Regions from separate parts of the Homo sapiens genome. Here region 1 is linked to region 2. The links come from fine-mapping of genetic effects on gene expression. A gene starts in region 2. The other region holds a variant in brackets. All regions are shown on one strand. Distances are between the middles of the regions.

What was found. PIP is the estimated chance that this variant, and not a neighbour inherited with it, causes the effect.
Region 1: its variant is fine-mapped to the expression of PBX3 in skeletal muscle (FUSION, PIP 0.95).

The regions. Positions count from the first base shown.
Region 1 is chr9:125,561,289-125,564,302 of GRCh38, forward strand. The region is part of intron 5 of MAPKAP1 (MAPK associated protein 1); the gene reads right to left. LOC105376272 (a long non-coding RNA gene) reads left to right here and starts at 2,447. Exons shown (of 4, transcript XR_007061777.1): 1 at 2,447-3,014. The variant G/C (reference allele first, on the strand shown) is at 1,427.
Region 2 is chr9:125,745,985-125,748,484 of GRCh38, forward strand. It overlaps PBX3 (PBX homeobox 3), which reads left to right and starts at 1,389. Exons shown (of 9, transcript NM_006195.6): 1 at 1,389-1,669. The coding sequence starts at 1,470. RefSeq lists silencers at 484-913, 1,164-1,213, 1,224-1,753, 2,024-2,363.

The sequences.
Region 1 (3,014 bases), 180 kb before region 2:
ATTGCAAGAGAGGGAGCCTACTTCAGGCGATCTATACTCAGTGAGTCTGTCATGACTAAGAGATATTTATTATAAAAAACAAGTAATAAGGACAAATTAAAATTAATGGAAACTGTAAATTTGCTAAATGGATTGATAACAAGAAAGTAATCTAGCTATGTTTGTCACTTTACATTTCAGGTATTTGTAATGCTGTTAAGATATTTAAAATTCATCTTTGAATGGCATGGGAAACTTTTGGATCTCTGCAGCCGGGTACTAACTTAAAAACAGAACAATTAGAGAGGCAAAAGAAAGCACTTTGGATGAGGAAAATGTCATGGTATACTGGCTAAGAGAGCTCTGTGGTCAGAACGAGTTCAAATTTCAGCTCCATGGCTCATGGCTATGTGATTTCAGAGAATAAGCTTCACCTCGAGTTTCAGTTTCCACTTCTATAAAAAGGGTATAATCGTCCCTCAGAGATTGTAAAGATTAGATCAGATAATATATGTAGTGTCTGGCATGTAACAGAAGTAAAAAATAAATGGGAAGGTAACTATAATAAGAAAGTCATATGGAAACTAACTTATAGTTGCACCAATCCTTAAACACAAATTGTGGATGCATATTAAGCAACAATGCATCTGAGCAGCATGTTCTATGTACACACAACTGTAATGGGAGTCAACATGTCCACTGTGTTCCAACCTTGGAACCTTGGGTCACTGAGCCCCCAGGGTTTTATGAACAGGGCAGACATGGATGGAACAAGCAACAGACAGCACAGATTATTTATTGCCATGTAAATCAACCTGAGGAATGTTTGATTCTCCAGCATCACAGAGGTTCAGGGGCAAATAATAAGCCTATTGATCAAAGCAGAAAAGTCCAACAATGATATCAGAAGAATTCTGCTTTGATTGTTAAGGGACATCCCCAAATCCTCTCAAAACAAATTCAATAAATATCACAGGCTAAGATTTGAGATGCAAAAGGTTCACTGCCAAGTGCTATTATTCTCCCCAGTTCTTAAATATGAAGTGTGAAATCATTCATTCAAAACACATTTGTAAAGTGCCCCCCTGGGCTGTGGCCTGTCCTGAGCATCAGGAACAGAGGAAGGAAAAGAAGACTGATTCCTGCCATATTATACAAGATGAATAGAAGCCTCTTCTGGGTCATCAGTAAAGTCTAGCAGTAAATAGTGCTCCAACTCCTCTGACCCCTTAATTGAAAATCTGAGGAGATAATGACTAAAATTCTATATTCTACACATGGACATACTGGTTCCTTTGGTGCTTTTATAAAGGAATCATTAGTAAAAGAAGCTACTGTGATATTTTGACTTCTAAAACTGCTTCAGGACTCCAAATTAGTACTAGTACAATACCAGCAGTATCATTAGCTACATTTATTGAGTACTATAAGCCAGACACTCTGCAAA[G/C]CGGCTTAGATATATAAGCTCACTGAAACTTCACATCAACTTTGTAAATGAATCATTTATATTTCTATTTTACAAATTAGATAACTGAGCCTCAATAGGATTAGGTAGCTTGCTCAAGATTAAACAGCATGTAAGTGACAGGGCTGAGATTCAAATCCAGGCAGCCAAGAGCTGTCCCTCTTGACCCCCACCCATTCCTCTGCCAAAGCCACAGTGTGTCAAGACTTCCTGAGGCACTTGAGAACCCAATCACCTATGGAAATATGACACACTTTGATGAGAAGAAGGAAACCATGACATATTACTTATAAAAAGTTAGATTTAGTTCAACCTCCTTGCTTTTACAGATGGGAAATGGAGGCAGAGAAAAGAGGGATAACATGCTCATGATCACCCAATTAAACAGAGGCAAAGCTGGTCTTGAAAACTCTGGTGTCCCCACTTCTTGTCCATTATTCTTTAAACAAATAAAAAACTGGTGGACTTTGAAATGGGGAGAGAAAAGAAAGGGGGCAGCTCTGGTCCCTGCCTCAGGAAACCCCCCGATACAGACATCTCAGAGTTTACAACACAATGGAAACAGGGGCACTTCCCATGACACAGCTTGGTGGAAAGAACAGGGATTTTGCAGACACAACTGGTTTTAATGCTAACTCAAATTCTTAGACCAAATCTCTTTGAGCTCCATTTTCTTATCGGAAAAACAGCTTTCCTTGATTTCTCTAGGAGAATAGCTTGGATCTCCGAAATTCAAGCAATTCTCCTTTGTGGTCTTACAAAATTTGGTCAATATTTCTGTATATCACTAATCATATTGCTTTTTCCTATTTCTGCATCTGTATTCTAAAGAGCAAGGATTCTTCTATTATCTCTCCATACTTACTAAAGAGTAAAATGACTGGCATTTAGAAGGTACTTAACAAACATTTGTTGAATAAATGAAGATATGAATGTGTAGACTCAATCACTCTATGAAGAAAGCAAAGGGTATTATTATTATTATTATTATTATTATTTTTGAGATGGAGTCTTGCTCTTGTCACCCAGGCTAGAGTGCAATGGCACGATCTCTGCTCACTGAAACCTCTGCCTCCCAGTTTCAAGCGATTCTCCTGCCTCAGCCTCCCAAGTGGGATTATAGGTGCCTGCCACCACACCTGGCTAATTTTTGTATTTTTAGTAGAGACAGGGTTTCGCCATGTTGGCCAGGCTGGTCTCGAACTCCTGACCTCGTGATCCACCCGCCTTGGCCTCCCAAAGTGCTGGGATTATAGGCGTGAGCCACCATGCCCAACCAGCAAAGGGTATTATTAGTGAGGTATGTGTTAATGAGAAGAGGGAAAGTAATAACCTTCTTTTTGTGTTCTTGCTTTTCACAGTGATATCTGTTAACCAAATAGGGCTTTCTAGGCAATGCACATGTGTCAAAGATTGTAATTCAAGACTAGAGGAGAAGGCAGCACAGGCAAAGGTGAGGATGAAAGGGGAATTTTTATAGTCCATCAAGATATGAATACTGGCATCTCACTTTTTATGGAGAAAAAACAGAAATGATGATACTATGTAAAAATTTTCAATTGTCACACAT
Region 2 (2,500 bases):
TGTGAGACCACAGGTTCCCACCTTAACTGGTCACCCATTGAGGGACAGCACAAGACCCCGGTGCTGGCGCCAACGCTGAGCTGCGCCCTCTCGGTTACCATGGCGACCGCAGGCGGGGCGAGGCCCCCACTCGCCGCTTCCCCGCCTCTGCCCAGAACCTTTCGAACGCTCCAATTGGGACGACCCTTTCTTGCCTCTGTCCCGCCCCATTCGGCTCTAAGCGCTTTGCGATTGGCCCGGGACGAGCGGCCTGGTACCCAGAGGGCACCACCTCCTGACAGGAAGAGCGGGAAAGTGCACCAGGAGCTGTCCGAGGCGTGAAGCTCACGGGCGCGGCGGGGGAGCACACGGTTGGCTTTGCAGCGAGTTGCCCACTGTCCCATACACAACCCCCCGCTCCCATGACTGCCAAAAGCATGGAGCAGGAGTCGGGGTGCGGGCACACCGTTTGTGGGCCGGCCCGGTCTATCCCGGGGGGCTAGGACGCGACGAGGTTGGAGCGAGGATCCGGCGGCACACTCCGGAGCGCGGAGTATCAGAGGCCAGAGGGAACGGGCCGGGCCCCGGGGGCGGTGCCGGCGGCGGCGGCGGGAGGCGCAGAGCCCAATGAGCGCGCGCACCGCCCCGGGGGCGGGGTCTGAGGAGCGCTCCCCCGCCCTTGCCAGCCCCCGTCCCTCCCCCCGGCGCGGGGCCGCAGTGAGTGAGTGGCACTGGCAGCCTGTCAATCCCTCGGCCCAGCGGCCTTCCAGCCCGGTCCGCGGCGGCTGCTGGCTGGGTGCGCGGCTCCGGCGGCGGCGGCGGCGACTTCTCCCGCCCTATCCATCGGCTGTCCGCCCGGCGCGCGGCCCGCCGGGGCCCTCCTCCGGGCTCAGCGCCCCCGCCGCCTCTGCCCGCCCGCTCCCAAACTTTCCTCCTCCGCCCCCCCTCGCTCCCCGCGGCCCGCCCGCAGGCCTCCTCCTCCGCCGCCGCCCGCCGCCGCCGCCGCTGCCTCCCCCGGGGCCGCCGGGGCTCGGATCCCGCCTGGCCGAGGCGGCGGCGGCGGCCGAGGAGGGCAGTGCGCAGGCTGGCGCGGGGGGCGGCGGGCGTCCCGGCAACTCGGCGGGCGCTGAGGAGCAAGTTGCGCGGGGCCGCCCGGCGGGGCGCGCGGCGGCGAGGAGGCGGCGCGGCGGCCGCGTGAGGGCAGCGGGCGCCGCCGCCTCCGCCTCCGCCACCGCCGCGGAGCCCGGCGCTTCCGCCCGCCGCTTCTCCTCAGCCTCGGCGGCGGCGGAAGCCGGAGCCGGGCGCCCGTCCTCATCGCCTCAGCCGCGGGCCCTGCCGGCCGGGCCGCCCCCTCCCCGCGCGGGCGGGGAGCGCGCGGCCGCCTCCCCCTCCCCCTCCCCCTCTTTCTTCTCCTCCCTCGTCGCCGCCGCCGCCGCCGCCGCCTCAGCCTTCGCCTCAGCCGCCGCCCGCTCCCGCCCGCGCGCGGCGGGATGGACGATCAATCCAGGATGCTGCAGACTCTGGCCGGGGTGAACCTGGCTGGCCACTCGGTGCAGGGGGGCATGGCCCTGCCGCCTCCCCCGCACGGCCACGAAGGGGCGGACGGCGACGGCAGGAAGCAGGACATCGGCGACATCCTCCACCAGATCATGACCATCACCGACCAGAGCTTGGACGAGGCGCAAGCAAAGTTGGTGTCGTCTCATTAAGCATCTTTTGTGTGTGTGCGGGAGCCGGGCCCGCGGCCGAGTCGAGGCCCGGGGTGGCGCCCGGGGCTAGGGCCGCAGCCCCCGGCGGGGAACTTTCTCCGAAAGCCGGCCGCCCGCCCCGGCCTCGGGGGGACTTGCCCGCGCCCCCCGAAGCGGGCGGGAGTCGGCAAAGTTGCTCTGGGGGGCTCGGGACGGACTCGGTGCGGCGCGGATTCCGTGGCGTCCTTTCCCCCGTCCTGCCCCTCGCAGCCCGGCCCCCTCCCAGGGATTTAAACCTCCCGCCCCGACCCCGTGCGGGCCGCGCCGCCGGGAAGTGTAACTTTCTCCTCCGGCGGGGAGTCCCGGCGCCGGCTCCCGCGGCCGCGGGACGACCTCGCGATGCGGGCGGCCACCCGGGCCCGGCGCGGGGCGATGGGCGGTTCCCTGGCGGGTCCGGGTGCGGACGGCCAAGTTCTCGGAGAGGGAGGGCCGCCTTGCAAACTTTGCCGAGCTGTCACCCTCCCGCTGGCCGCAGTCGGCCGGCCTCCTCTGCACAGGAGCGGACGCGGGAGCCCCTCCGCACCCGTCCCCTCCCCCGGGTCGCCTTCGCCTGCCCCCGGGGCGAGGCTCCCCGCGCGGGTTCGCGTCGCGTCTGCAGTGGCCGAGGCTGCTGCCTGCCGGGCAGATGGGTCCGCCTTGTTCCGGCTGCAGCTTTCGCCGCCGGGGCTTGCTGGCTGTCGGGAACTAGTCAACTGGAGTTTTTGTTGACTTCCCACGGTTCAAAAGGGCCTTCCAGAATGGGGGGCTGGAATTAAATCTTGGGTCTAACTTAA